Linked DNA regions of Homo sapiens. The protein of the gene in region 1 interacts with the protein of each later gene in a pairwise test. Each region holds a gene or a part of one and is shown in the gene's direction. Other genes may lie near its edges.

What was found.
Region 2: the proteins of TLE1 (region 1) and SERPINB9 interact in a two-hybrid assay, tested with the Homo sapiens proteins (one large-scale study listed by BioGRID and IntAct).
Region 3: the proteins of TLE1 (region 1) and ZFP64 interact in a two-hybrid assay, tested with the Homo sapiens proteins (one large-scale study listed by BioGRID and IntAct).
Region 4: the proteins of TLE1 (region 1) and FOXA3 interact in a two-hybrid assay, tested with the Homo sapiens proteins (one large-scale study listed by BioGRID and IntAct).
Region 5: the proteins of TLE1 (region 1) and RERE interact in a two-hybrid assay, tested with the Homo sapiens proteins (one large-scale study listed by IntAct).
Region 6: the proteins of TLE1 (region 1) and RNF10 interact in a two-hybrid assay, tested with the Homo sapiens proteins (one large-scale study listed by BioGRID and IntAct).
Region 7: the proteins of TLE1 (region 1) and BTBD2 interact in a two-hybrid assay, tested with the Homo sapiens proteins (one large-scale study listed by BioGRID and IntAct).

What each region holds. Positions count from the first base shown.
Region 1 is NC_000009.12:81,582,030-81,585,865, reverse strand, and holds the end of TLE1 (transducin-like enhancer protein 1), read left to right. Parts: intron 1-210; coding exon 211-361; intron 362-1,341; coding exon 1,342-1,418; intron 1,419-1,560; coding exon 1,561-1,668; 3' UTR 1,669-2,183; downstream 2,184-3,836. UniProt on the Homo sapiens protein: Transcriptional corepressor that binds to a number of transcription factors. Inhibits NF-kappa-B-regulated gene expression. Inhibits the transcriptional activation mediated by FOXA2, and by CTNNB1 and TCF family members in Wnt signaling.
Region 2 is NC_000006.12:2,889,641-2,894,063, reverse strand, and holds part of SERPINB9 (serpin B9), read left to right. Parts: intron 1-510; coding exon 511-653; intron 654-2,075; coding exon 2,076-2,231; intron 2,232-3,493; coding exon 3,494-3,901; 3' UTR 3,902-4,423. UniProt on the Homo sapiens protein: Granzyme B inhibitor.
Region 3 is NC_000020.11:52,150,494-52,154,648, reverse strand, and holds the end of ZFP64 (zinc finger protein 64), read left to right. Parts: intron 1-1,220; coding exon 1,221-2,503; 3' UTR 2,504-3,371; downstream 3,372-4,155. UniProt on the Homo sapiens protein: May be involved in the regulation of mesenchymal cell differentiation through transactivation of NOTCH1 target genes.
Region 4 is NC_000019.10:45,870,501-45,875,139, forward strand, and holds the end of FOXA3 (hepatocyte nuclear factor 3-gamma), read left to right. Parts: intron 1-1,574; coding exon 1,575-2,558; 3' UTR 2,559-3,297; downstream 3,298-4,639. UniProt on the Homo sapiens protein: Transcription factor that is thought to act as a 'pioneer' factor opening the compacted chromatin for other proteins through interactions with nucleosomal core histones and thereby replacing linker histones at target enhancer and/or promoter sites.
Region 5 is NC_000001.11:8,653,349-8,658,001, reverse strand, and holds part of RERE (arginine-glutamic acid dipeptide repeats protein), read left to right. Parts: intron 1-1,560; 5' UTR 1,561-1,704; coding exon 1,705-2,029; intron 2,030-4,653. UniProt on the Homo sapiens protein: Plays a role as a transcriptional repressor during development. May play a role in the control of cell survival. Overexpression of RERE recruits BAX to the nucleus particularly to POD and triggers caspase-3 activation, leading to cell death.
Region 6 is NC_000012.12:120,536,545-120,541,197, forward strand, and holds part of RNF10 (E3 ubiquitin-protein ligase RNF10), read left to right. Parts: intron 1-4,653. UniProt on the Homo sapiens protein: E3 ubiquitin-protein ligase that catalyzes monoubiquitination of 40S ribosomal proteins RPS2/us5 and RPS3/us3 in response to ribosome stalling.
Region 7 is NC_000019.10:2,008,342-2,012,994, reverse strand, and holds part of BTBD2 (BTB/POZ domain-containing protein 2), read left to right. Parts: intron 1-4,653.

The sequences.
Region 1 (3,836 bases):
AGACAGAGGGGTTCAAATGTTTCCAGTTTCCTAAAGGTTTTGACACTTGGTTCATCTGCGTTAGATCACTTGCCCTGTGGACCTCCCCACAGTCTGGACTTGGCTGATTACTTCCCCCCATTCTTGCTATTTCCCCACTTTTCACATTGCGTCTTCCCTTCCTAAGTGTATCAGGCGGAATAATGAGTGAGCCTGTCTTGCTCCTTGTAGATCTTCTCCCTGGGGTACTGCCCCACCGGGGAGTGGCTGGCAGTGGGCATGGAGAGCAGCAATGTGGAGGTGCTGCACGTGAACAAGCCTGACAAGTACCAGCTGCACCTGCATGAGAGCTGCGTGCTGTCCCTGAAATTTGCTTACTGTGGTGAGTTCAGCCGAAAGGAAACTGGAGGCCGTTGATGGCCCAAATGGAAAATGCTTCTTAAAAAAATATGGTAGAGATCATAATCTGGAAAAAATGTTCTCCGAGCAGCTGGATGCAATAATTCTATTGTTTTAATATGCCCTTCAGAGCACAGCAATGTCTGTTTCAGTCTGTTTTGCTAATTTGAGAAAAGTCAGCAGGCAATGTGATTGCCTAATACACGGTTTGGACACAAGTTTGTTTTGGAGGGGTTGGGAGACGACAATGAGTTTCTACTCTGAAGAGGGGTGGGCGGGAATTTATTGAAGAATGGAGCAGGGGCAGTGGAAGTCATTATGAGCTGGCCATGATGAGGAATCCAGGGTTAGAGAAGTCGATATTTAGGTATACGCAGACACTTAGTTACACTCTACTCTACAGTGAGGATGAAGAGGGAAGAAGTTCATGTGGTGACCCTTCTTGTGTGCTGCAGATGGGCAGATATCTGTTCACAGTATGCATAGATGGATGGATGGATGGATGGATGGATGGATGGATGGGTGGATGAGTGCCTATCACTTATTGAGCATTTTTCTTCATGCTATATGATGTGACTGGCATTTTACTTAAGTTGGATGTTTAATCCTTTAATTCCCATTAAAGATGGGAATCTTTAATCCCATTTTATCATGAGGAGACTGACTAAAATAGAACACATTCTTCATTGATTTCTATATTTGAGGGTTACCGTGTGTTGGATATGATGCTACTAGTCCTGTATCCAGTGACTAAGGAGGCTGATACCTCTTAGATTATACCCAAGATCACTGATAAATCACTGAGGAGCCCAGATTAAAACCTCTGTTCATATCATGGACCAGTCCTTAGGGCATGATAGTTCATATATTAAAAATGTTCTTAGTTTGATTAAGTCCAAGTTGCTAATTGTATAGTAGGAATTTTAACCTTGTGAAAACTAGATATTCCTTTGCTAATTCTAGGTAAATGGTTTGTGAGTACTGGAAAAGATAACCTCCTCAATGCTTGGCGGACCCCCTATGGAGCCAGCATATTCCAGGTGAGTAAGTACTCCTCACCTAGATCCACAGTTTGACCACAGTGTCGCCTCTGAAGCCAGGAGTGAAGGTGCCTCCGAGGGAGCAGGGCCTCTGAGTACCGTTGTTCCACATTAAACACATGTCCATTGTTTTCTCTTCCAGTCCAAAGAGTCCTCGTCAGTGCTTAGCTGTGACATCTCTGTGGATGATAAGTACATAGTCACTGGCTCGGGGGACAAGAAGGCTACAGTCTATGAAGTCATCTACTGAAAACATTATGTGGTTTAACGTTTATAGTTGAATTGGGCCAAAATGTTTCGAATTTATAGAAATAGAAAAGTTGTAACTTTAAAAGAGAAAAAAAATTACAAACACCTGTTTCCAAACCTTGACAGAAAACTACTTTGAGTCTACAAAGAGGAGGCGACAAGTCCATCAGCAGAAAGTCACCTGTCTACATAGACCAAATGGAGCACCAAGGCCAAGCGGACAGAGGGGCCATGGGTTGTAGGATTGAGGAACGGAATCTGCCGACTCACATGACAGCCCATTCTTTCTTTCTGGGTGATCTGGGGATCACGCCTTGCCCAAGTGTGAGATTACCTTTCTGTTCCTTGCAGTTCACCTCACTTTCCGTCCTTTGTAGAGCAGTGGTGTCTCCAATGAACTTGTTTCCTGGTTTTGCATCTTGTGAAATGTTTTTTTGTATTTTTGTTGAAGGTTAAACATTTGTATAAATTGTAAATATATTTGGTTTATTACAGTAAAGGCTTTAGTACCAATAAGTGGTTTTCCTTTTCTTTCTTTATTGTTTTTTATTAAAGCTTTGGGATCATCAATGTGGGTTTTATAAGCAAAGATTATACATTTGTAGAGGAAGTTTTGAATTGCACTGCTTATTTTATAAATATATTTGGTGGTAGGCTCCCATTGCATTAGAACCTAATCCTTCACAAGCTTGAGTTACTGGGAGCTCAAGACTAGGAATTGTGAGTAATTGAAGGTTTACTAATGACAGTTTTCTTTAGGAAAGTAAAATTACTTCATCAAGATTTGTTCTTTTGTTATGATACTATTGTGATTCAAGGTCAAAGATTAAAGCTCTACTTTTTTCTGGTGATTCATTGGAAGGCAAAATATTCCTTTTTCTAGGAAGGCCCAATCTCCTCTTCCTTTTCCCTTTCTCTTTCCCTTTCTCTCTTTCTTTCGTTCTCTCTCTCTCTCTCCTTTTTTTTTTTTTTTTTTTTTGTTTAAAGATTTGAGTTCACATTGTTTGTTACCCAGGTTGGAGTGCAATGGCATGATCACATCTCACTGCAGCCTTGAACTCCTGGGCTTAAGCAATCCTCCCACCTCAGCCTCCTGAATAGCCAGGCTAATTTTTTTTTTTTTTTTAATTTTTATTTTTTGTAGAGGCAGACTCTCACTTTGTTGCCCAGGCTGGTCTCGACCTCCTGGCCTCAAGTGATCCTCCCGCCTTGGTCTCCTAAAGTGCTAGGATTAAAGGCATGACCCACTACATGCTGGCCTCAGTAGTTTCAAATCTGTATTCTCTCTCTTCACAAGCTTCACTTGGGTTTTGTGTTATGATCTATGATACACAGAAAGCTGCAGAGTTCATTAACCTGTAAAAGGTGGAAAGTCAGCTGGTTTTGTCTTCATTAATACTTATTTGGTCTATTATATTAAGTTACTTAAGCCAACCATACCCATCACTTCTCCGCATTCTTCTCATTAAGGCCCTCCCTGCAGCTCTAGCCATTATTATCTATCATTAGTCTTTGGTCTTTATCTTTGTGGACATGCTTTTACTAATGTGATTAGATGAAATCTGTAATCCTGGGCTTTTAATAAGTTACCATCCATGTTTCCTCCTGAAAAAGCTACATGGCTTATTTTTTATATACTATATACTATTATACACCATTATTTTCTATTATTTTATAAAATAATAGCTAATAAATTTAAGGCAGTGTTCCCGGCTGTTTAAAAATAGCACCTAAGGAATTTTTAATGTTCTTGTTCTCTTATGATCCAGCGAGTTGTTGGCAGTTTGTCTTAATATTTTTCATTTGTTACCAAGACCTTGTTCTTTATATATTCAAAAACATTACTTTGTTTGCTTTTTGCCAAAAAAAAATGTTTATATACTGAGTTAAATATTTTCACTTCTCATTAAGTGAATGGCAAACCCCCATTACTAAAGCTGATTATGCTGTCATCCCTTCCTTGTATAACGAAGTAGGTTTCTATCTGACAGACTCAGATGGCTTGTTAATGGAGTAATGGAGTGTTTATCTTTTCTGTTCTCTCTCCCTCCCCGCCTTACTTCCCTATTTTCTCTAATACCAACAATGAAGTAGCTTAAAGACCATTAGAGTTTGTCTCCCTCCTACCTGTGACCCGGAGACCCAGGCCCACAATGCAGCTCTGCACTT
Region 2 (4,423 bases), on another chromosome or scaffold:
GTGCTTTGTTGAGGGGATTCAGCAGGAATATCTCCTCCAAAAGCTTCTGGAAACTCCCCATGTGCCCAATGTCAGCTCTTCCCGCTTTGAGCCGTCCATTCTGGTTGCTTCTGACATGTCCATGTATAGTCACAGAATGTTAGAACTGGGTGTGATCATGAAGGGTTGGATCAAACACTCCAATTAACCATGTGAGACAAACACCCCTTCAGCCTATCACATTTCCTGCTGGTCTTGTTCTCCAACCTGGTGTAATTTTTCTACTTTGTACCAACCTGCTTTCCTCGAGTGACTTAGGTATCTTTCACCATCCTCAACTTGGTGGATGTTCTCAAGGTGTCAGTAATCATGAATACCACTCATATGTGCTGTTTTTATTTCTCTACATAACAACCCAAACTCAGCAAAGTTGAAAACAGAAGTTTGCTTCTCAACTAATGATCCAGGATCATCCAATGCATCAGGTTCTTATAAAAAGCAACTGAATGTAGTCTCTACTTTTCTTGAAAGGTAAAATTGAAGAGTTGTTGCCGGGTAGCTCAATTGATGCAGAAACCAGGCTGGTTCTTGTCAATGCCATCTACTTCAAAGGAAAGTGGAATGAACCGTTTGACGAAACATACACAAGGGAAATGCCCTTTAAAATAAACCAGGTGGGGGAAGCTTTTTAAAATCCTGCTAGTTTGATGAAGAAGTTGAATGGAAAGATTTAACTTTGTAAAAGTGTAAGTGACATAAGCGTAAGCCAAAAGGAATTTGAAACTTAAAGTATTTCTGAATGAATTTCTTAACTCAGTAGAAAAAAACGGAAGGAGTAAAAGATATTTGCTGCATATATATATTATATATACGTATATATAATATATATATATATATGTAGTGTTTTATCACTGCTCTTAACTGCCTTTGATAATTTCTCATAAACCATTGCTGCCACCTAGTTTTGGAAACTAAAGATCTTCCTATAAGCCCAATTTACTTGGCTAGAAAGCAAAAAAAAAAAAAAAAAAGTGTTAAGGTAGTGTGATATGTGGGAGTGAGAGGCAGTATAGGGCAGGGTAGAGGGAGAGAAGGTGAAAACATGTGTCTTTAATTAGTTATTTTTAAAATTAAAGTAAGTTTTGATTTGAATTGTTAACTAATTATCATTAATTCAGTATTTACAGCTTTTTAATATTAAAACTTCATGACAAAGACCTTAGTTTTGACATTGAAGTAAAACTTAATTAAGGCAGGCATTAGAATAATTTGCCAAATCTTCCAGCCCCTAAAAAGATACTATTTTAATGTAATTAAAAAACAAAAGCAGGTAACCCTCCTGCATTTTTTGTAAGGTGTACTTTAACTTAAAAAAATTAGTTCTCTAGTTGCAAAGGGTGGGAGGAGGAGAATTCTAACCCTGGTTTTAGAACTATTTTAATTTTTATAATAAATGATCTGTATCAATTTTTTAAAGTATTACGTTAATAAATGTAATACTTTGCTGAGCTTCTATGTGCTTATGCCTCTTCTGTATTTTAAAAAAGTTATTTCATTAGAGTATCAGAATTGAAAAGATTGGGTTAAAATACATTACTACATATGTAGGTCGTTACTCTTTCTGAGAGAGTGTATCCATTTATACTCCCTGTCATGCTGTTGTGGAACTATAAGTTTCATCCCACTTTATGATTTTTTTTCTCATATGTTGGGTTGGATAAATAGGAAAAACAATACACATTTTTTTCTAATTAAATCAAAACAAATTTGTATTTAATTTCATTTGATTATATTGCTTTCTTAGATCTATTTGCTGAGCACAATTTAAATGAGAAACATCTTTCTCCTCTGGAAAATGTAGGGTATCACATTTTATTTTGCAGAAGAAAACCTTTCCCAGGGTGGTACTGTGTCTGCTTGCAATGAAGATAGGAAGGAACTGGTTGACTTTTTTTTTTTTTTTTTTTTTTTTTTTTTTTAGTGTTAACTGGGGCATGAATGTGGCGGTTTCCATCACAGGTGCTGAAAACACTCTTGGAGGCAACTGCAGCTCTTTTGAAAGTTTTAATTGCGTCTTTCAATAATCCTTCCCCCAGGAGGAGCAAAGGCCAGTGCAGATGATGTATCAGGAGGCCACGTTTAAGCTCGCCCACGTGGGCGAGGTGCGCGCGCAGCTGCTGGAGCTGCCCTACGCCAGGAAGGAGCTGAGCCTGCTGGTGCTGCTGCCTGACGACGGCGTGGAGCTCAGCACGGTAAGACCCGGGCTGCGGGAAGAACCCAGGGACACCTTTGCGGGCAGAACTCGAGTGCCACTTCCACCTCTCATATTCACCTTCTGAGTTGGCGATGCGGCAGACGCACACTGTGCAGGCACTTGGCGTTGGGATCGAACTTTTGTTCAAGGCTGACTTTTCCCAATATTGTCTGCGTGATCTGCCAAACTACACATCTCAGTCCTCTGTTTTTTCATCGCTAGAAGGAGTGGGCGGCGGTTAAAATGCCTTTTAAAATAAATCAGGTAGGAGGAAGCTTATAAAAATCCTGCTAGTTTGATGAATGGCAGACTTTTAACTCTAAAAGCATAAATGACTGCTCGGGGTTATTGCCTCCTAGAGTTATGATGAGGATAAAATGTGGGTAATTCAGGTAACAAGCTTACCACATTGCCTGGCAACTAGTAAATGCTCTACAAATGTGATCCATTATTACAATCATCATTCTTAGCATTATGCTTTTAAAGTCTAGGAACCTGAAATAGAGAATGAGGAAGTCTTAACTTTGACCTAACAAGGCTGGGAGGGGGCATCCAGGGAGGTGTGAAGTCCAGTTCTCAGAGGGTGGGACCAGAGGCAGCCTCTGAGGGCACATCCAGGCACTCGGCTTCCTTTCAGCATGGATCTCCAGGGTGAGAGAGTCAACCATGGCAAATGGCAGGCAGTGGGACCCCATGACTTAAGAGGTCTGTGTGCGCAGCAGCCATTGGCTCTCCCTCTGCCCACCTTCCTGAAACTATGCTCCGGAAACTATGCAGAATCTCTCTGGGGCAGATAATCCTCTGGTAACCTCTCTGCTCCGGAAACTATGCAGAATCTCACCTGGGACAGATAATCCTGTTGGAGTGGCTCACACTGAGAGCCCTTTCGTTTCCAATCCTTTTCTTTACTAGCAATGGTTTGTTGTCTTTAAAAAGACTATGTTTGAAAAAAAAACACAGTCGCCTGGGCATTGACACTTGTCACAATACAAGATGTCTCTGGAGTTGTTGGATAAGGAGAGGACAGCCACAGCCTTCCTGCCTCTGACTGCTTGGTGTCTCTCCCCCTTGTCAAGGAAGTGGCACATGGGACATAGGACAAGTAAGAGTGCTCACAAGCTTCTGGCAGATGAAGGGGCCACTGATCCTATGTGAACAAACAACACCTACGTGCAAGGGGAGGAAGGGAACTGTGAGTGCCTGTGCGCTTGTACATGTGCACTGAAGTCGGAATCTTAAAGTCTAATTCTGGTCTTTCAGGTGGAAAAAAGTCTCACTTTTGAGAAACTCACAGCCTGGACCAAGCCAGACTGTATGAAGAGTACTGAGGTTGAAGTTCTCCTTCCAAAATTTAAACTACAAGAGGATTATGACATGGAATCTGTGCTTCGGCATTTGGGAATTGTTGATGCCTTCCAACAGGGCAAGGCTGACTTGTCGGCAATGTCAGCGGAGAGAGACCTGTGTCTGTCCAAGTTCGTGCACAAGAGTTTTGTGGAGGTGAATGAAGAAGGCACCGAGGCAGCGGCAGCGTCGAGCTGCTTTGTAGTTGCAGAGTGCTGCATGGAATCTGGCCCCAGGTTCTGTGCTGACCACCCTTTCCTTTTCTTCATCAGGCACAACAGAGCCAACAGCATTCTGTTCTGTGGCAGGTTCTCATCGCCATAAAGGGTGCACTTACCGTGCACTCGGCCATTTCCCTCTTCCTGTGTCCCCAGATCCCCACTACAGCTCCAAGAGGATGGGCCTAGAAAGCCAAGTGCAAAGATGAGGGCAGATTCTTTACCTGTCTGCCCTCATGATTTGCCAGCATGAATTCATGATGCTCCACACTCGCTTATGCTACTTAATCAGAATCTTGAGAAAATAGACCATAATGATTCCCTGTTGTATTAAAATTGCAGTCCAAATCCCATAGGATGGCAAGCAAAGTTCTTCTAGAATTCCACATGCAATTCACTCTGGCGACCCTGTGCTTTCCTGACACTGCGAATACATTCCTTAACCCGCTGCCTCAGTGGTAATAAATGGTGCTAGATATTGCTACTATTTTATAGATTTCCTGGTGCTTAGCCTTATAAAAAAGGTTGTAAAATGTACATTTATATTTTATCTTTTTTTTTTTTTTTTTTCTGAGACGCAGTCTGGCTCTCTGTCGCCCAGGCTGGAGTGCAGTGGCTCGATCTCGGC
Region 3 (4,155 bases), on another chromosome or scaffold:
TAGGCCTCTCAGTGTTCTAGAAGCTTGTTCAATTGCCTCCTGCCATCTTTGTTTGCATTCATTAAGCAGCTCATGGTGAAGTAGCAGATCCTATGTCAAAAAGCTGGAACACCATCCCAGTCTTGTGGGTTTATGACCTAAGAAAGCAAACATCAGTTATATGCACAGATAATTACCTAGCATCTAAAGATACCAGTTGTGGAGTCAGCCTGGATTGGAATCCAAGCCCTTCTTTGTACTACGGGGCGACCAAGAACAAGTTATGTAGTCTGTCTGGGTCTCAGCCTTCTCCTCTGTGTAACTGTGTTAAAAAACAATATTAATAATAGCACCCACCACAGGGCAATCTTCCCAGCATCAAGCGAGACCATGCTTGTGGAGTGCTCAGCATAGCGCCTGCCATCCCGGAAGCCATCGAAGAATATTAGCTGCTATTTTGCTTACTTAAACAATGTTGAGATGAGGGGTCGCCAATTTGCTTGAATTGTCATTGCCTCAGATAATTTGGACTTGGCATTCATTGAGGAAGTAAATTTGGAATATGGTATCCAATCAGATGTTTGCAATTTCACTTGCCTTGCTCATCTTTCAGCGAATATGAATTTTTTTTAAAAAAAATCAAGCAGCTGGATTTTGTAACTTCACAAGTAAAGAACGCAGCTGGCAATATGGGATAAATAAATTTTGTGCAAGAAACACATCTTTATTAATAAAGATCTGCATGAAATATAAGCTGGGTGTTTCAGTCATTGTAAAACCATACTCCAATGAGTGCAGCACGGAGCTGACCCATTCGAAAATATATTGTTGAATCTGTTACAACATGTAACTCAATCAAAATCAACGGGTTGTGCAAAAGTCTTCAACTGTGAACCATTAACTAGCAGAGTGGGCAAATTAACTGTATGAAAGATAGTTTGAGTGTTTTAAAGAATATAACAAGTATACTTGTAAATCTTATTTTATCTGGGACAATTAAATTGCTCTTTTCGATCTCCCATTTTTCTTCTGGGTTTGATACCGGTGGTGGTGGTTTGGGTTCCGGGGAAAGATAAAGACGCCCTGCCCCTCTTCCCCCACTGCCAGGGGCTGCTAGAAGCTGCAGTTAGGAGGTCTGCACCCACCCACCTTGTATAAGCGATTTTCTGGTGTGTGCTTCGGGGGGATCCGCTGTGGTTGTTGCCTGCCTGTTCTTATCGAAACTCACCTTGTGTTGACAGGGGACGCCCCCTTCCAGTGCTGGCTCTGTAGCGCCAAGTTCAAAATCAGCTCGGACTTGAAAAGGCACATGCGGGTGCACTCGGGGGAGAAGCCTTTCAAGTGCGAGTTCTGCAATGTCCGCTGCACCATGAAGGGGAACCTCAAGTCGCACATCCGTATCAAGCACAGCGGGAATAACTTCAAGTGTCCTCATTGCGACTTCCTGGGTGACAGCAAAGCCACCCTCCGGAAGCACAGCCGCGTGCACCAGTCGGAGCATCCTGAGAAGTGCTCGGAATGCAGCTACTCCTGCTCCAGCAAGGCCGCCCTGCGCATCCACGAGCGTATCCACTGCACCGACCGCCCTTTCAAGTGCAACTACTGCAGCTTCGACACCAAACAGCCCAGCAACCTGAGCAAGCACATGAAGAAGTTCCATGGGGACATGGTTAAGACTGAGGCTCTAGAGAGGAAGGACACCGGCAGGCAGAGCAGCCGGCAGGTGGCCAAGCTGGATGCCAAGAAGAGTTTCCACTGCGATATATGCGATGCCTCCTTCATGCGGGAGGACTCGCTCCGCAGCCACAAGAGACAGCACAGTGAGTACAGTGAGAGTAAGAACTCGGACGTGACCGTTCTCCAGTTTCAGATCGACCCCAGCAAGCAGCCCGCCACGCCCCTCACTGTGGGACACCTCCAGGTGCCCCTCCAGCCCAGCCAAGTGCCCCAGTTCAGCGAGGGAAGAGTCAAAATCATCGTTGGGCATCAGGTGCCCCAGGCGAACACCATCGTCCAGGCTGCCGCCGCTGCAGTGAACATCGTCCCGCCTGCCTTGGTGGCCCAGAACCCAGAGGAACTCCCAGGGAACAGCCGGCTGCAGATCCTGCGCCAGGTCAGTCTGATCGCCCCCCCTCAGTCCTCGCGGTGTCCGAGCGAGGCGGGCGCAATGACCCAGCCGGCTGTCCTGCTGACCACCCACGAGCAGACGGACGGAGCCACTCTGCACCAGACTCTCATCCCCACGGCCTCAGGTGGCCCCCAGGAAGGCTCTGGCAATCAAACTTTCATTACCAGTTCGGGTATTACTTGCACTGACTTTGAAGGCCTAAACGCCTTGATTCAGGAGGGGACAGCAGAAGTGACAGTGGTGAGCGATGGAGGCCAGAACATCGCAGTGGCCACCACAGCGCCACCGGTCTTCTCCTCCTCTTCCCAGCAAGAACTACCCAAGCAGACCTACTCCATCATTCAAGGGGCAGCCCATCCAGCTTTGCTCTGTCCCGCCGACTCCATTCCAGATTAGTGCTTAAAAAAACAAAAGGAGTGGGGGAAAGGAATTGAGAAAAAGAAATCTTAAGTAGAATTCTCTAAAAGGTTTGCTCTTAATGTTTTCTTTGTTTTGTTTTGTTTTTGAGACGGAGTCTCGCTCTGTTTCCCAGGCTGGAGTGCAGTGGCGCTATCTTGGCTCACTGCAACGTCCGCCTCCCAGGTTCAAGCGATTCTCATGCCTCAGCCCTCCGAGTAGCTGGGACCACAGGTGTACGACATCATGACTGGCTAATTTTTGTATATTTAGTAGAGACGGGGTTTCATCATGTTGAACTCCTGACCTCAAGTGATCTGCCCACCTCAGCCTCCCAAAGTGCTGGGATTACAGGTGTGAGCCACCATGCCTGGCCGTGGTTTGCTCTTAATGTTTTTAAGGATGGTTGTGAATCCCCCTGGCCCCATAATAAATTGTAATTTTATACTGCTTACTATAATTTTTTTAACACTGTAACAACTTTGAGACCACCTCTGAATCGTCGCATTATAACTGTTGTAGAATCTTAAATGTTACCAAGATGATTCCAATGAGGGGTTGGAATTAAATGCATTAAGTAGTGAATTCATGTGTTTGTTTCCAACTTGATTTTCCAACTCTAATAAAGGTTTCTGTCCATCTTATTACATTTGTGTAGTAAATGGTACTTCCCAGCCTCTCTTTTGCCCCATTCTGGAATACTCCCCAGAGTTTGGGGGTGTTCATGTTTTATACATGTAAGTCTGTTGGCATGAAGGACCATTTTCTACATAATATGACATGGATACTTGACCCAAAAAAAAATGTTTAGTGCTAATGAGCAGAAAATGAATGGTTCCATAATAAATTGATATCTGATTAAAATATACTGAATGTTAATGATTCTTTAGAGCCAAGGTGGGATTTGGGAATGATGGGGCGTGAGTCATTAATCAAAAACAAACTGAAGCAGCAAAGGTTTTTAGTCCTTTCATAAACGTCACACAATCATCTTACCTCCTCCACAGTCACATTAAATAGATGTGGTACCTAAAGTGATAAAGTGATCCATCCCACTGTTGTTTTCATTTTGAAACTTCAGACTGACAATCCTGGCATTTCTGTTTAGACACAAAAATGATCAAAGTTCCTACTAACAAGACAGAATTTTCTAGAATACCATTTTTGAGATGTTAATATCTGTGCAGAATCCAGATGAGTGGACTGAGAGAGTACCTAGATTTTTTCCAAAGCATAGGTTGTATTGAGAAGAGGAAAATTCAGATTGTGTTGTTTTACATTGAAATGCTGTTTGATCAGTAGGTGGTGCCAGAGAGCAAGCTAGAATCATCCATATTTGTACCTTAAGCCATTCTGTAAGGTTGTAATAGCACTCATTTCTGCTGTCAGCAAGGATTGGTGAGGAGGGGAGGTTACTCTTGGGACAGAAGCATATTTAGAATATTATGAGAATACTTAGATACATTTCTACCACTTTTATTCTTCTTTCTTTGATCTGTAATAGTTGGACACAATTTTGATGACTTGCTATATTTGCCATAATTTCTTTATTTTCCTATCATCAATGATAATAGTGAGTTATTAACTATGTTTTTGGTAAGAAACAGAAAAGGCTTGCAGTGTACAATGTTAGTGATTTAAATAATTTTGTC
Region 4 (4,639 bases), on another chromosome or scaffold:
TGAGAACTGCTGATTTACCTAATAAACCAGCAGTTATTAAATGTTTTGGTCTCAGGACCACCCCCCTTCTTTTTTTTTTTTTTTTGAGATGGAGTCTTGCTCTGTTGTCCTGGCTGGAGTGTGCAGTGGCATGATCTCAGCTCACCGCAGCCTCAGACTCCTGGGCTCAAGCGATCCTCCTGCCTCAACCTCCCGAGTAGCTGGGATTACAGTCCTGTGCCACGATGCCGGCTGATTTTTGTATTTTTGGTAGATAACAGGGTTTTGCCACGTTGCCAGGCTGGTCTTGAACTTCTGACCTCAAGTGATTCACCCTCCTTGGCTCCCAAAGTTCTGGGATTACTTTGGGAGGCTGAGGCAGGAGGATTACTCGAGGCCAGGAGTTTGAAAACAGCCTGGGCAACATGGTGAATCCCCGTCTCTACTAAAAATACAAAAAAATTAGCTGGGTGTGCGGTGCATGCCTATAATCCCAGCTACTTGGGAGGCTGAGGCAGGAGGATCACTTGAGCCCCAGAGTTTGAGGCTACAGTGAGCTGCGATTGCACCACTGCACTTCAGCCTGAGTGACAGAGTGAGACCCTGTAGAAAAAAAAAATTATTTAGGAGTCCAAACAGTTTCTGTTGATGTGGGTTATGTCTATCTACGTTTACAGTATTTACAATTAAAACTGAGAAATATTACAAACATGTATTCATTTAAAAATAGCAATCATTTGTTAGTGTAAAAGATTTTTATTAAAAAAACCAAATTTCAAAAAATTTAGTCAAAAGAGCGACACTGTTTTTTTCCATTTTTGCAAATCAAGTCTGGCCCAGTGGAAGACAGCTGGATTCTCCTGGTTGCTTCTTCATTCTCTCTGTTGGAATATCAACACCCCCTGGAAAACTCCACTGTACACTTCATGAGAAAGAGAGTGAAAAGGGCTAATAATAACTTAGGATTGCGGGTGTGGTGGCTCATGCCTGTAATCTCAGCACTTTGGGAGGCCGAGGCGGGCAGATCACGAGGTCAGGAGTTCAAGACCAGCCCGGCCAACATGGAGAAACCCTGTCTCTACTAAAAATACAAAAAAAAAAAAAAAAAAGCTGGCGTGGTGGCACACACCTGTAATCCCAGCTGCTCTGGAGGCTGATGCAGGAGAATTGGTTGAGCCCAGGAGGCGGAGGTTGCATTGAGGTGAGATCACGCCACTGCACTCCAGCCTGGGCGACAGAGCAAGACTCTGCCTCGAAAAAAAAAATAGCATTATTTTGAAAATAGTTTTGACTTCGTGGACATCCTCAAAGGGTTTCAGAGACTGCCCTGGGAGTCCCGAACCCTGGAGAATCACTTAAAGGATGATGTTGAGTGTATGGGAGCATGGTGGGTGGGAAAGCAGGGGGCAGAAAGGGCGTGTCCAGGGAGTGAGGAGAGACCTTGAGAGACTGCTTTCTACAGATAGAGGTAATGATGGAAGGGATTTGTAGAGAAGGCAAGATGGACAGACAGACGGACACTCAGTGGGTCCTGGGATCCTTTGCTGACCAGCAGAGTGGAGCCCCACTGACCCCTCCTTTCATCTTTCCCCTAGGTCTACTCGCCGGTGACCCCAGTGCCCACCATGGCCCCCCTCAACTCCTACATGACCCTGAATCCTCTAAGCTCTCCCTATCCCCCTGGGGGGCTCCCTGCCTCCCCACTGCCCTCAGGACCCCTGGCACCCCCAGCACCTGCAGCCCCCCTGGGGCCCACTTTCCCAGGCCTGGGTGTCAGCGGTGGCAGCAGCAGCTCCGGGTACGGGGCCCCGGGTCCTGGGCTGGTGCACGGGAAGGAGATGCCGAAGGGGTATCGGCGGCCCCTGGCACACGCCAAGCCACCGTATTCCTATATCTCACTCATCACCATGGCCATCCAGCAGGCGCCGGGCAAGATGCTGACCTTGAGTGAAATCTACCAGTGGATCATGGACCTCTTCCCTTACTACCGGGAGAATCAGCAGCGCTGGCAGAACTCCATTCGCCACTCGCTGTCTTTCAACGACTGCTTCGTCAAGGTGGCGCGTTCCCCAGACAAGCCTGGCAAGGGCTCCTACTGGGCCCTACACCCCAGCTCAGGGAACATGTTTGAGAATGGCTGCTACCTGCGCCGCCAGAAACGCTTCAAGCTGGAGGAGAAGGTGAAAAAAGGGGGCAGCGGGGCTGCCACCACCACCAGGAACGGGACAGGGTCTGCTGCCTCGACCACCACCCCCGCGGCCACAGTCACCTCCCCGCCCCAGCCCCCGCCTCCAGCCCCTGAGCCTGAGGCCCAGGGCGGGGAAGATGTGGGGGCTCTGGACTGTGGCTCACCCGCTTCCTCCACACCCTATTTCACTGGCCTGGAGCTCCCAGGGGAGCTGAAGCTGGACGCGCCCTACAACTTCAACCACCCTTTCTCCATCAACAACCTAATGTCAGAACAGACACCAGCACCTCCCAAACTGGACGTGGGGTTTGGGGGCTACGGGGCTGAAGGTGGGGAGCCTGGAGTCTACTACCAGGGCCTCTATTCCCGCTCTTTGCTTAATGCATCCTAGCAGGGGTTGGGAACATGGTGGTGGGTATGGCTGGAGCTCACACCACGAAGCTCTTGGGGCCTGATCCTTCTGGTGACACTTCACTTGTCCCATTGGTTAACATCTGGGTGGGTCTATTACTTACTGTGATGACTGCTGTCTCAGTGGGCATGGTGTTGATCCACGGGGTACTGTGATAACCACCATGGATACATTTTGGTGGCCCACTGGGTACTGTGAGGACTGCTACATTGATGGATGTTATTGGCTAATCCACTGCATGGTTTGATGGCCACCATCTCGGTTGGCCCTTTGGGTGTGATGGTGATAGCATTTCAGTGACATCTTCTTTGGCCCCCCCCATTAGGTGCTGTGCCCACTTCTTTTTTGGTGTACTTGGCACAGTAGGTGCCAAGTTGGCCACCATTCTGTGTAACACCTTTTTTGGCCCATTGGGTGCTTTGATGGACATCATACTGGGTAGGTGACAACGTCAGTGGGCCACCATGTGCCATGATGGCTGCTGCAGCCCCGTGTTGGCCATGTCGTCACCATTCTCTCTGGCATGGGTTGGGTAGGGGATGGAGGTGAGAATACTCCTTGGTTTTCTCTGAAGCCCACCCTTTCCCCCAACTCTGGTCCAGGAGAAACCAGAAAAGGCTGGTTAGGGTGTGGGGAATTTCTACTGAAGTCTGATTCTTTCCCGGGAAGCGGGGTACTGGCTGTGTTTAATCATTAAAGGTACCGTGTCCGCCTCTTACTGAATGTCTCTTTTCCTTGGCCAGTGGGCCCTGTGGGGCTTGAACACCTGAATTTCTGCTCCTCTGTCCCTTCTGCTTCCTGCCCCTAAGAGCTGGCTGCCTCTGGGGGAGGAGTTGGGGGAGGCATCGACCTGACCTTTGGCTCTTTGCTGTCCCTGACCCCAAGGACAGTTTGCTCACAGATAGCAGCCCCCGCAGCAGTGGGGCCAGAGCAGCAGGGGGAGGTGGCTCTGCAGTGACCAAGGCCATCTCCCCACCCCCACTTCTCAGACATACACACAGACCTCTACCTCTGAGGCTCTGCAAGCCTAATGGCCGAATAATCTTTGGCTAAGCTGGGGAGGAGGAAAAAGGACAGATGAGGTGTCAATTCAATGACTGGAGATCGTGCACATGTTGGAGTTTATCTGCGTGTGTGTGTGTGTGTGTGTGTGTGTGTGTGTGTCCTCTGTGTGTCATAGGATAGCACTATGCCTATTGGGGTCCTCATGGTCTACCGCAGGGTGTTGTCTGTTGTCAGTATCCCTTGATTGTGTAGGTTTTTGTGTCTGTTCATACCCTGGGTATATGCTTACTTGCCCTGGGTGGCTGGGAATATCAGACTCTTGTGTATGTTTTTTTTTGTTTTTTTGAGACAGGGTCTCGCTCTGTTGCCCAGGCTGGAGTGTGTGGCACAATCTTGGCTCACGGCAACCTCCACCTCCTGGGTTCAAGTAATTCTCTTGCCTCAGCCTCCTGAGTAGCTAGGATTACAGGTGCCCGCCACGACACCTGGCTAATTTTTGTATTTTTAGTAGAGACAGGGTTTCACCATGTTGACCAAGCTGGTCTCAAATTCCTGACCTCAAGTGATCCGCCCACCTCAGGCTCCCAAAGTGCTGGGTTTACAGGCGTGAGCCACTGTGCCCTGCCTTTTGTGTATGTCTTTATTGTGTTGTGTGTGTGGTTCTCTGTGTACACTTATCCCTGGGTCTCTCTGGGTCTCACACTGTGTTACGTGTGTGTCTATATGCCATTCTCTACCTAACTCACTGCCTCAGAGAGTGCGTGTGTGGAACGAGATGCATATGGCAGGGCTGGCTGTTCTTGTGTGTTCTATGTGTGTCTCTGTGAGTCCGTGTATGTCTGCATGCTTAAAAGAAAACATGTAGTCTGGGTGTGGCGGCTTATGCCTGTAACCCCAGCACTTTGGGAGGTCGAGGTGGGCGGATCACTTGAGGTCAGGAGTTCGAGACCAGCCTGGCCAACATGGCGAAGTTGGCCTAAAAATACTCTATTAAAACACAATAATTAAGCCGGGCATGGTGGCTCACACCTGTAGTCCCAGCTACTCAGGAGGCT
Region 5 (4,653 bases), on another chromosome or scaffold:
TGTTGGGTTTCTTTTTGGGGAGTACTTTATTAGGGATACCATTTATAGTAGAAATCTGGAAGACTGTAAAAACCACTTAATATTCCCGAAAGATGGAAGCTTGTTTCTGGAAGCTGTTATGTTTTGTTAAGGCAGAGACAATACATTTTCTTTTCTTTATTGAGATGGAGTCTTTTGCCCAGACTGGAGTGCAGTGGTGTGATCTCGGCTCACTGTAACCTCTGCCTCCTAGGTTCAAGCGATTCTCCTGCCTCAGCCTCCCAAGTAGCTGGGACTATAGGCGTGTGCCACTGTGCCCAGCTACTTTTTGTGTGTTTAGTAGAGACAGAGTTTCACCACGTTGGCCAGGCTGGTCTCGAACTTCTGACCTCACGTGATCCCCCTGCCTTGGCCTCCCAAAGTGCTGTGATTACAGGTGTGAGCCACCACGCCTGGCCAGTAATACATCTTTAGAGAGATCATTTTCCTTGGAACATAACTGAAAATGGTAGGATGAAAAGATGTGTAAAATGTAACTGAAGGTGGAAAAATCTTGCTCTGAAGCTCTCACTTTCGTTTGAGTTAAATATTATTTTTATTCTTGAAGGAAGTTCTGGGAGTTTGTAGAAGTAGCCAGAAAATATCTTTAGAATATAGTGCTCTATGCGATATCCTGAGACTTTTTTTTCTTTTCTTCTTCTTTTTTTTTTTTTTTTGAGACGGAGTCTCTCGCTCTGTCGCCCAGGCTGAAGTGCAGTGGCACAATCTCGGCTCACTACAAGCTCCGTCTCCTGGGTTCACGCCATTCTCCTGCCTCAGACTCCTGAGTAGCCGGGACTACAGGCGCCCGCCACCACACCCAGCTAATTTTTGTTGTATTTTTTAGTAGAGACAGGGTTTTACCACATTAGCAAGGATGATCTTGATCTCCTGACCCCGTGATCCATCTTCCTCGGCCTCCCAAAGCGCTGGGATTACAGGCGTGAGCCACCGCGCCCGGCCTATCCTGAGACATTTTTGACAGTGCTGCAAACTATTACTATTTTTTCAGGTAGAAATATTTTATTTTATGTTGGAGATGGGATCTCGCTTTGTTGCCAGGGTTGGTCTTGAACTCCTGGCTTCAAGTGGTCCTTCTGGCTTGGCCTCTCAAAATGCTGGGATTACAAGGCATGAGCCGCAGTGCCTGGCCTGGAAATAATTTTTACTACAGATTCTTTCCTCTTTAAATTAATATTATGAGTTATGAAGCTCCTTTTGTATAATAATACCCATTATATGTTGTCTACCAGGGTATTGGTTTGCTTTTTCTTTAAAAAGGAGAAAACATGTAAGGTGGAGGAAGTGTAGTTTACTCTTAGGCATTCAGACAGTTTTTATTATTGGTGTCATAAAAAACCCCAAACCATTTGCTGAGACCAAAAACTGTAGTTTTTAAATTTTAACACTTAATTTTTCTCCTGTGGCTTGTGCGAAGTTTTTAGGTGTAAAGCATGAATAAGTAAGAGATTCATTTAACAAAACATTATTTTAGGAAACAAATATGAAAAAGCGTTAAAACCATTCTTTTTTCTCTCCTAGCATTTTTGAAACGTTGGGGTTGTTGGAGTGGTTGGATTTTCCCTGGAATTGAGTGAGAAATTCAGAAGACTGAAGCCCAGGCTTACTGTCTACCTTTCACGGAGGCCTAGCCGTGAGAGGACAGAAGAAGGCACGTGGCGAATCATGACAGCGGACAAAGACAAAGACAAAGACAAAGAGAAGGACCGGGACCGAGACCGGGACCGAGAGAGAGAGAAAAGAGACAAAGCAAGAGAGAGTGAGAATTCAAGGCCACGCCGGAGCTGTACCTTGGAAGGAGGAGCCAAAAATTATGCTGAGAGTGATCACAGTGAAGACGAGGACAATGACAACAATAGTGCCACCGCAGAGGAGTCCACGAAGAAGAATAAGAAGAAACCACCGAAAAAAAAGTCTCGTTATGAAAGGACAGATACCGGTGAGATAACATCCTACATCACTGAAGATGATGTGGTCTACAGACCAGGAGGTAAGGAGCCTTACGTTTGGGTCTTGCCAATGTTTACAGTGGGGGAATGATCTTGGCATTATGGTGAAATAAATACGCTTTGTACACTTTAAGGAAGGCTTGGAATCTAGAAGAGTAGGAAACTTAATTTGGTAAACATGTGACCCACTTTTGGTCAGTTAGGTTCACCCACTTCTTGCTTGTGTCTGCCTTAATTTGCTCTTGTGTCCTGGTTTATGCATTCATGAGTTCTTTTCTTATTTTCCTGTGCTGCTTGTTCTCTAACTGGACCATCTGCTTAGTATTTTTTTGTCTTTTGAATTCATGCTTGCTTTTTAATCTTCAATCATAAATGAGACTGTGGTGACCCTGCAGAATTGACTGCTTGGTGGAGACAAGTAAACCTTAAGATTCTTGGAAACAGGAAATTTTACCTTGGGACAGGATCGACCAGACTCTAGAGAGGTACTTTTTAAAAATGGCCTTTAGGCCAGGCATGGTGGCTCACGCCTGCAATTCTAGCACTTTGGGAGGCTGAGGCGGGTGGTGACCTGAGGTCAGGAGTTCGAGACCAGCCTGACCAACATGATGAAACCCTGTCTCTACTAAAAATACAAAAATTAGCTGGGCTCGGTGGTGTGCACCTCTAATCCCAGCTACTTGGGAGGCTGAGACGGGAGAATTGCTTGAACCCAGGAGGTGGAGGTTGCAGTCAGCCGAGATCACACCACTGCACTCCAGCCTGGGCAACAGAGCGAGTCTCCGTCTCAGAAAAAAAAAAAAGCCCTGAAGATCAGAGATGTATTGCTCCTGCTAACTTCCTTTTCCAAAAATTTGAGCTTCAGGCTCTCTAATCAACAATAATAGAAGTAGTCATCTAACCTGCTTGGTTTTCCAGAAAATGTATTATGGTCACACCAGTATATTGTGGCTTATAGCATTGCTCAAAAAAAGACAGACTCAACTTTTAGATGAGATCAGGGAAACAAGTGAGTCAAAACCTGTTGAACACTAGCAAAGCCTTTCCTTTTCATTTGATGTATTGTGTGTATTAAGACACCTTTTTTAGGCTGGGCACAGTGTAATCCCAGCACTTTGGGAGGCGGAGACAGAAGGATTGCTTGAGCTCAGGAGTTCAAGACCAGCCTGGGCAACGTAGTGAGACCCCCATCTTTACAAAAAATTTTTACAAATTAGCTGGGCCTGGTGGCACACACCTGTAGTCCCAGCTATTCAGGAGGCTGAGGCAGGAGCATCACTTGAGTCTGGGAGGTCGAGGCTGTAGTGAAGCATGATTGCACCACTGCTTTCTAGCCTGGGCAACAGAGCAAGACCCTGTCTCAAAAAAAAAAACAAAAAAAAACAAAACAAGATCCTTTCTTACAGAAGCCAGTAAAACCTAGGTGAAATCATTTTGTTTGAGTTACTTTTACTGTTGAAGAGTGACATGAATTTTGTATGAGATGTAATTAGCAGATTAAAGCTGCCCATTTTTATGTTTTTCTGAGAAGGAGATTAAAATACTTCACTGTGTTATGTCCATAATCTGGAACAATCATTTTACTGAGGAATGCTGTTACTGTTATGAACTTCACGTCAAGTTCCAGATTTTCATTCTCCCACACAGGAGTTTTTTAAATTTCAAAAGATGTCAGTGGGGCTGGGCACGGTGGCTCATGACTGTAATCCCAGCACTTTGAGAGGCTGAGGCGGCGGGAGGATTGCTTGAGTAGTGTGGAGACCAGCCTGGGCAACATAGTGAGACCGTATCTCTGCAAAACAGTAAAAAATTAGCTGGGAGTGTGATGAGACTGCAGTCCCAGCTACTCAGGAGGCTGAGGTAGAAGAATCCCTTGAGCTCAGGAGGGCAAGGCTGCAGTAAGCCCCGTTCACATCATAGCACTGCAGCCTGTGCAGCAGAGCAAAACCCTGTCTCCACCCCTCCCCCCCGCAAAAAAAAAAAAAGTCAGTGCTAGAACTTAATACAGACAAATTTGCATTCACAGCTACAATTTCTTGGTTGGAGATTAACTGAGAAGGTATTTGTGTGATATAAATTGATCAGAGTGGAGGTTTTAGAGCAGTTAGAAATCTGCTGTAACGATTAAATGATGTGTGTAGGTTACAGTACTGTCTGTATTTATCTTTGATGTAGACTCAGCTATTGGGCAGTAAGAATTTCTTAGTGACTGAAGAATCTCTCAGAGTTACCACAGATTGCTTGTTTAGGGCGTACGCACATCTAAATCATGGGAAAGGAACAAAACATGTTAACCCTTTTTTTTTTTTTTTTTTTTTTGAGGTGGAGTCTCGCTCTGTTGCTTAGGCTGGAGTGCAGTGGCGCGATCTTGGCTCACTGCAAGCTCCGCCTCCCGGGTTCACGCCATTCTCCTGCCTCAGCCTCCCCAGTAGCTGGGACTACAGGCGCCCACCACTGCGCCCAGCTAATATTTTGTATTTTTAGTAGAGACGGGGTTTCACCGTGGTCTCGATCTCCTGACCTCGTGATCTACCCGCCTCGGCCTCCCAAAGTGCTGGGATTACAGGCGTGAGCCATCGCGCCTGGCCAACTCTTTTAGATATAGATTACATTATGATAACTTCAGTATAAGGAAAGATTTACTTTTTTATTATCCTTTCTCTTG
Region 6 (4,653 bases), on another chromosome or scaffold:
GAGACCATTGGAGTATGGGTTCTCGGGCCGTGTCAGGAAATGGCATGTATGCAGACTGATTTTGCAGTTCTGCACATGCGTAGCTTTGCCATAGATCCCTCAAAAGATAGAAGGTAACCAGTCCTTTTGGTCAGTGTTGGAACTGGTTTAGAGTGGTCTGTTCAAAGCAATTGATAAGTAAGTTTATTTTTGTACTCTATTCCCAGATGTATGTTAAGGATTTGGTTCTCCAACTGTGAATTCTCAACTAATTTTTCTGGGGCTCCTCTTTAAGCCACTAACATACATTCATTAGTCAGTTGCAATAAATGCCTTAAGTTTATTTCTTAGCAGTAGGTGAAAGCTTGTGACAACTTAAAATAAAACAAACAAACAGGTATTTAAGGAATTTTACTGCTATGTCCTTCACTTTGAATATGTTGGTTAGTGGAATTAACTCTGATTACCCAACAAGATGATACAGAATTCTATAGTAGTTTGACCAAAGCAAGTATTTGTCATTGTTAACATTTCAAATGGGCTGGGTGGCTATAATCCCAGCACTTTGGGAGGCTGAGGCAGGCCGATTACTTGAGCCCAGGAGTTCGAGACCCTGTCCTACAAAAAAATAAATGAGCCGGGCGTGGTGGCACGCACCTGTAGTCCCAGCTGTGAAGAGGCTGAGGCAGGGGAGGAGGAAGAGCACTTAAACCCAGAAGTTCGAGGTTGCAGTGAGCCACGATCACTCCACTGCACTCTAGCCTGGGTGGCAGAGTGAGACCCCGTCTCAAAACAAGAAAACTTCTGTAAAAACTCATGTAGGCCGGGTGCGGTGGCTCACGCCTGTAATCCCAGCACTTTGGGAGGCCGAGGCAGGTGGATCATCTGAGTTCAGGAGTTTGAGACCAGCCTGGCCAACATGGTGAAGCCCCGTCTCTACTAAAAGTACAAAAAATTAGTCCGGCGTGGTGGTGCGCACCTGTAATCCCAGCTACTCGGGGGGCTGAGGCAGGAGAATCCCTTGAAACCGGGAGGCGGAGGTTGCAGTAAGCCAAGATTGCACCATTGCACTCCAGCCCGTCTAAAAAAACAAAAACTCATGTAAAGGCCCTTTGTTAGATTTTACAAATAACACATATGTGCCTTGAGGCAGCATTCTTTTTTTTTTGTTTAATGTGTGTGTTAGAAAGCTTGACCATGTTTGCCACCGCCAGTGTCTGCTTTTCTGGCTTCTGCTGTGCGTGTTCGTTTAGCAAGGAAGGATGGGCTTTGTAGCCAAATCCATGCTTCTTCACTAGCCATAATCCACTGCTTGCATTTAGGAACAAATTAAAAGGCAGGATATGTGGAGATTAAAAGGTTAGGAAACTGGATATTGGCTGATTTTTAAAGTTGAAACTAAGCTGCCTTAGGAACGTAACAGCTAAGACCAGTGCTACTACAGCAGATACTCAGGAGCTCTGATGCAGTGACTTCACGATGAGATGGTTGCTCTAACAAAAGGGTACACTCAAGCTCCGCATAATCCCATAAAAAGATTTCTGCAGTATCTCATAAGCTGAACACTTCATATACTTGATTCTGCTGGGAATCATTGAAAGGACCTCTTGAATTACAGAGTACTGAGTTGAGGGGAAAACAAGCGTAAGGTGAAAAGATAGTTTATCTTTTGTCAAGGTGAAAAGAGCAAGAGTTTTCAGTATTCAAATATTTAAGTCACTTTTTTTCTCCCCCTTTTCTACCTCGTGGAAGAAAGCCCTTTGGTTTCTATTCTGTAAACTGTCATTAATGGCCATTTGCTTCCTAGCTACATGATTAATTTCTTTGAGATTTTGTTCCAGTGGCTGGCTTAAATTTGCCCTTCATTTGTACACAGGAAATATGTAAATTTGGCTACCAGGATTTTCTTGATCTTTCCGGCTAGAGTCGCATACCACAGTTTCTTTGCCTGGGCTAATTGCCTGAACATTTATATAACATTCCTTTTCTTGATTATATTCCTACAGCTTCATTCCAGTAGTGTTAATAGGTATTTCTGAGAACATGCAGCAGTAAATATCCTGTGAATATAGCTCAGAGGAGAGAAGGTGGGTTAGAAAGTGGGGAAAGTCATTTAGAGGGAGCAAAGAAAGAGAGGCAAGAGAGAAGGTAGGCCGTTTATGGGCAGGCAGTGGACTCTGGCCAGGAACCAGGCTCTTGTCCCATCCCCCTGGGCCGATAGAACTGCCAGGGAGGTTAAGGGAAGGTCAGGTATTATGAGGCAGTTATTTTGAGGTTGGTGGTATGAAGCACTGCCCTGGCATTCTTCCTGTTATTCTGGTACCAGAAACCAGGTTACTAGTGGTAATCTGCCTTGAAGAATGCCTCTGAGCTGTAAATGGACCTGGAGATTTTAATGGCTTTGAAAATTGAGGTGATTTGAAGCCTTCAGTAAAACCACTTAGAGAAATTAAAAGAATTTCAGGGCCCGTTGGCTGGATTCCTTGGTTTATATGGCTTCATTGGAAGTCTAGTGGGTGCTCTTGACAGGAACGCTTTGGATTTATTAATGATAGGCTTTCAAATCATAGTAAAACTGTGTGTCAGCCACTATGGTAGGCATTTTACAGAAGTTTTCTTTCTTAATCCTCATGATTCTATGAGGAAGTATGGTAGAATATTAGTCCTGTTTCACAGAAAAGAAAATAGAGGCTTAGCAGTGTTAAGAGTGATTTGTCCAAGTAAATTTTTATGAAGTCCTAGGCGGTATTTTTCAATAAGCTTTGTATAATCACACTTAGCAAGCAGATAACTTACTGGCATGTGCATCATTCCTGATACCACCTCTCTCTTCCTTTCATTCAGAATTACTAATTTCAGCTGGATTCAATTTGTTGTCAGTTGATTCTGTAGTAAGGCCATATGTTGCCCCTCTGGAGGTGCTTGTCAACTACTCTGGATGATGGGTAAGCAACTTGCTTGTGATTACAGCATGAATCAGCAGCAGAAACTTGCTGACTGGTATTCTGACCTCTAGGCCGAGCCACCTGTTAGAACTAGAGCTAGAAATGAAGATGCCAAGTAATTTAACTGTGAAAAACTTGTGGCCCTTAATTTGGTAATGGGGGGAGGCTGAGATATACCTACTGCTACTTGGTGGAGACCTTTCCATTAGGGAAATGTGGAACAACTGAGAAGCTGGGTTAAGTTTTTAAGTCATTTATTTGTCGACTCTGGAGCCTGAGTTTAGTGGTCTTGTCCATTTTGGAATGTGTCTTGACAGTAGTTCTTGGCAGTTGTTCTCAGTGGTGGCTGTGCATCAGAATCTCCTCAGGAACTTTTTTTTTTCCCTCAAGACAGTCTTGCTCTGTCACCCAGGCTGGAGTTCAGTGGCGCGATCTCAGCTCACTTTAACCTCTGCCTTCCCGGTTTAAGCAATTCTTCTGCCTCAGCCTCCTGAGTAGCTGGATTGCAGGTGTCCACCACCACACCGGCCTAATTTTTGTATTTTTAGTAGAGATGGGTTTCGCCATGTTGGCCAGGCTGGTCTCAAACTCCTGACCTCATGAGGAACTTAAAAAAAAAAAAAATAGGGGTGTGTGGGGCCCCTTCCTAGGAATTTATTATCTTTTTTTTTTTTGTAGAGATGGGGGTCTCACCATGTTGCCCAGGCTGGTCTCAAATTCCTGGCTTCAAATGATCCTCCCACCTTAGCCTCCCAAAGTGCTGGGGTTACAGGCATAAGCCACTGTGCCTGGCCTTTTTCTGATTCTTTAAGCCTAGATTGAACCCGTGGGTCCTGGGCATTCATAATTTAAAAAGTCTGTGCAAGTGATTCTGGTGTGCAGCCAGGATTGAGAACCACCACTCTGAGATTTAAAACTTCACCCATAGTTCCTTCTCCCAGGAACTTGATATTTTTTGTTTTCCAAAATCTAAAGTGGATCATCTTATCACTCCTGTTCTACCCTCGAGTTTTTCCCATGTATATCCTGGCAAGTTGTCCACAAAACATTTCAAAAATAATACTCTGAATTTTATCTCTGGGTCCCAGGCCTGATGGTACCTTCAACCTTTAGCTGCCTTTTGCCTGGGTCTAGAGATAAGAGCCAGTCTCTCACTTGACATATCTGTCTTCATACCCTTAGGTAACTGGAAGACGAGAAACGAGTTGATTTTGGCAACTAAAATCACTAATCATGATGTGGTCAGTTGTTATGTGTTTTGGAAATGAGCAGTTTACTGTCTTATCAGTGAGCATTTCTGTAAGCATTATGAAACTGTTTCCTTGCCAGTGTGGTAATAAGTGAAGAAATGAAGACAGCCTTCTTGCTGAGTGCCAGTTTACTTTCTTTTTTTTTTTTTTTTTGAGACAGAGTTTTGCTCTTGTTGCCCAGGCTGGAGTGTAGTGGTGCAGTCTCGGCCTTGCCGCAACCTCCACCTCCCGGGTTCAAGCTATTCTCCTGCCTCAGCCCCCGGAGTAGCTGGGATTACAGGCATGCGCCACCATGCCCAGCTAATTTTTTGTATTTTTAGTAGAGACGGGGTTTCTCCATGTTGGTCAGGCTGGTCTCGAACTCCCGACCTCAGGTGATCCGCCCGCCTCGGCCTCCCAAAGCATTGGGATTATAGGCATGAGCCACCGTGTCTGGCCATTTTACTTTCTTAATAAGCCCTTGCCATGTAGAATCTGGC
Region 7 (4,653 bases), on another chromosome or scaffold:
GGGCGGTGGGTTTGCTCCCTCCACCTGGGTGGTCTTTGTGCTCTTTGGGGAGGGGGTAGGTTGGATGCAGCTGGAACTCACCCAGCAGCAGGTGCAGCTGGAGAATCCCAGGCTTTCTGTTTGAGGGGGGAGGTGGGGCGCCCCGGGCACCGGCTGACCTTGGGACATGTATGCGATTGCACTTGAGGGACCGCTGGCTCGGTTGCAAAGTGGGGAAGATGGAGGCAGGACAAGGACCCCTTGGAGAAAAGTAGGTGAGGGGTCTGCCCCCGGGGGGCTCAGGAGAGGGCAATGAGGCCCAGCGGGAGATAGCAGCAAGGTAAGGTGGGCGGGCCTGGGACAGCGGACCCTCGACATGCGGGGTTAGGGGCGTGGACCCCCACTCAGCTCAAATCCAAGTACAACTTTTGACTCCCACGAACTTAACTAGGAATGGCTTCTCGCTGACCGGAGGCCTTGTGAGGACACTTGGTCAATGCACACCAGCCTCCTGTTCTCACAATAACAGGCTGGAGAACAGAAAATACATTCAGAAAAGTCTAAGGGGCCGGGTGCGGGGGCGCACGCCTGGAATCCCAGCACTTTGGGAGGCCGAGGCGGGCAGATCACGAGGTCGGGAGATCGAGACCAGCCTGGTCAACACGGTGAAACCCTGTCTCTACAAAAATACAAAAATTAGCCGGGCGTGGTGGCGCACACCTGTAATCCCAGCTACTCAGGAGGCTGAGGCAGGAGAATCTCGTGAACCCAGGAGGTGGAGGTTGCAGGGAACCGAGATTGCGCCATTGCACTCCAGCCCAGGCGACACAGTGACACACCATCTCAAAAAAAATAAAGGACAGGCTGGGCGCGGTGGCTCACGCCTGTAATCCCAGCACTTTGGGAGGCCGAGGCGGGCGAATCATGAGGTCAGGAGTTTGAGACCATCCTGGCCAACGTGGTGAAACACCGTCTCTACTAAAAATACAAAAAATTAGCCGGGTGTGGTGGTGCACAACTGTAGTCCCAGCTACTTGGGAGGCTGAGGCAGGAGAATCACTTGAACCCGGGAGGCGGAGGTTGCAGTGAGCCGAGGTTGCGCTACTGCACTCCAGCCTGGGCGACAGAGCAAGACTCTGTCTCAAAAAAAAAAGGAAAAAAAATAAAAGGAGAAATCCTGTTTGCTGTTCACACAGTGGAGGTGGCCACGATGAAGGCCTGTGTCCTTGTGTTCATATTGAGGGCTGAGGAGCAGGAGCAGGAGGGTGGGTCTGTCTCCGGGGTGGCAGAGGTGGAAGGGGAGGCAGGAGAGGCCGGCACCGTTGGGGCAGCCTTTATTGAAAAAATTCACATATGAGTGGACCTGTGCAGTTGAAGCCTGCCTTGTTGAAAGGTCATCTGTGTTTCCTTAGCATTTCAGGAGGGTTGAAAATGGAGAGGGGGCACTGACCTGGTCCAGAACGACCCCCTGAGCAAGTGATGTTGATGGAGAGTGCAGTGCCCCAGGCTCAGGGATGGAAGGCCCAGAGCCCAGAGGGGCTGGGCAGGTGGGAGCCATGGCAAGGCCGGAGCAGGAGGAGTGAGGGAGGCCCTGTGGCCCAGTGTGACCAGATCCGCATTGAGGGTGGAACGCGCCGTGGATGGGCCCAGGAGCGAGGCTGGGGAGTAGCAGCTGCAGACTCCAGGCAGGAGACAGCAGCGGGCTCGGTGGGGACGGCAGAAATGAGGGGTAGAGGATGCAGGTCCTCTTTGGAGGAAGCGAGTTCCTGTGGCCAGGAGAGGAGGCAGCTTGGCAGGTGAGGGCGTGGGGGGCTGTGGTGGGGGTCCCCAGACTTCTGGCTGGAGCATCACAAGCCAGGACAGGCTCAGGAGGGACAAGTACTGGCTTGGATGTGTTGGCGGGACCTGGGGCTGAGAGGTCCGCAGAGCAGTGTGTCCCAAGTGCTCTGTGCCTCAGTTTCCATGATTGAAACAAGGTCACTCAGACACATCTGTCCTGGGGCTGTGGGAACAAACGGACCCGATGGGTTGCTGACAGCCACAGGCCACACAGCAGAGAGAAAGAAAACAGCAGCTGAGGCCGGGCGCAGTGGCTCACGCCTATCATCCCAGCACTTCGGGAGGCCGAGATGGGCAGACATCTGAGGTCAGGGGTTTGAGACCAGCCTGGCCATCGTGGCAAAACCCCGTCTCTACTAAAAATACACAAATAAGCTGGGCGCGGTGGCACGCACCTGTAATCCCAGCTACTCAGAGTCTGAGGCAGGAGGATGGCTTGAATCCGGAAGGCAGAAATTGCAGTGAGCCAAGATTGCGCCACTGCACTCCAGCCTGGGTGACAGGGCGAGACTCCGTCTCAAAAAAAAAAAAAAGGTGGGGGGATGTCGGGACGAACTGGGGGTGCTGGGATAAAGTCTGGAGTTCACCGATGAGCAGAGAGGGGCCGGGCCTTGCCAGCTGTGAGGAGAGCAAGTGGCCTGGGCTTGGGCCTGGTCCCTGGCGGGGGTGCAGGGTGAGCTGAGACATGGCAGAGAGGAGGCTGGGAGCAGGCCTTGGTGGTGGCCCCAGTGTCTGGACCGTCGCGCAGGGGTCGGCGTTTGTGCTGGGGAGGAGGCCAGGGGTTGCACGCGGCTTCTGGGCTGTTCCCCGGTCCTGGATGGGCACCCGTCCATCTCAGCGCGCTGGAGCCTGGCACACAGTAGGCACGCAGTGATTGTGCATTGAATGATCTGTGGGAATTAAACATCTGATTCTCTCATGGGGCTTGAAGGGAGAACTGAAGATCTCCAGGGTTGCACTTTTGTAGATGTGCACATTGGCTGGTCCCATGAAGTTAGTATCTAAAATACCTTTTTCTTTTTTTTGAGACGGAGTCTCGCTCTGTTGCCCAGGCTGGAGTCCAGTGGCGCGATCTCCGCTCACTGCAAGCTCCGCCTCCCAGGTTCATGCCATTCTCCTGCCTCAGCCTCCCGAGTAGCTGGGACTACAGGCACCCGCCACCACACTTGGCTAATTGTATTTTTTAGTAGAGACGGGGTTTCACCATGTTAGCCGGGCTAGTCTCAAACTCCCGACCTCAGGTGATCCGCCCACCTCGGCCTCCCAAAGTGCTGGGATTACAGGCGTGAGCCACCGCACCTGGCCTCCCCTCCTTTTTTGTTTTTTTGAGACAGAATCTTGCTCTATTGCCCAGGCTGGGGTACAGTGGCGTGATCTCCGCATGCTGCAGCCTTCAGCTCCCTGGCTCAAGCAATTCTCCTGTCTCAGCCTTCTGAGTAGCTGGGATTACAGGTGTGCGCCACCACGCCCAGCTAATTTTTGTATTTTTAGTAGAGACAGTATTTCCGTCATGTTGCCCAGGGTGATGGTGAACTCCTGAGCTCAGGTGATCCACCCACCTCGGCCTCCCAAAGTGCTGGGATTCCAGGTGTGAGCCACCGCGCCCAGCCTAACGTATCTTTATTCACTCTATCATGGAACTGTCAGCATTGTAGCGAGGTCTAGAAGTAGAACAATCTGGGTGGGTGTGGTGGCTCACGCCTGTAATCCCAGCACTTTGGGAGGCCGAGTCAGGCGGATCACGAGGTCAGGAATTTGAGACCAGCCTGGACAACATGGTGAAACCCCGTCTCTACTAAAAATACAAAAAATTAGCCTGGTGTGGCGGTGGGCACCTGTAATCCCAGCTACTTGGGAGGCTGAGGCAGGAGAATTGCTTGAACCCGGGAGGCGGAGGTTGCAGTGAGCCAAGATCACGCCACCACACTCCAACCTGGGTGACAGACTGAGACTCCGCCTCAAAAAAGAAGAAAAAAGAAAAACCACAAAAATTAGCCGGGCGTGGTGGCGAGCGCCTGTAACCCCAGCTACTGGGGAGGCTGAGGCAGGATAATCGTTTGAACCTGGGAGGCGGAGGTTGCAGTGAGCCAGGATTGTGCCACTGCACTTCAGCCTGGGTGACAAAGCGAGACTCTGTCTTGGAAAAAAAAAAAAAAGAACAGTGTGTTCTGGGGTCTCACATTTCATTGACTGCTTTGTGAGTCCTTGTTCCCATAACACATTGTTTGATGATTGCTGCTTTGTGGTATGTTTTGAGAACTGCTCACCAAATTCTTCCCAACTTTATTCTTTGTGAAGACTTTTCAGGCTGAGTGCAGTGGCTCACATCTGTAATCCCAGCACTTTGGGAGGCTGAGGTGGGAGGATCACTTGACCCCAGGAGTTCGAGACCAGTCTGGCCAATATAGCGAGACCTCATTACTTGGACATGGTGGTGTGTGCCTGTGGTCCCTGCTACTCAGGAGGCTCGGGTAGGAGGATCACCTGAGCCTGGGAGGTTGCCGCTGCAGTGAGCCATGATCCTACCACTGCACTCCATCCTGGGCGATAGAGTGAGACTCTGTCCCTAAAAAAAAAAAAAAAAAAAGCTGGGCACAGTGGCTCACGCCTGTAATCCCAGCATTTTGGGAGGCCAAGGCGGGCAGATCACCTGAGGTCAGGAGTTCGAGATCAACTTGGCCAACATAGTGAAACTCTGTCTGTATTAAAAATACAAAAAGTACCCAGGCATGGTGGCTTGCACCTGCTGCTTGAGAGGCTGAGGCAGGAGAACCGCTTAAACCTGGGTGGCAGAGGTTGTGGTGATCTGAGATCGCACGACTGGGCTCCAGCTTG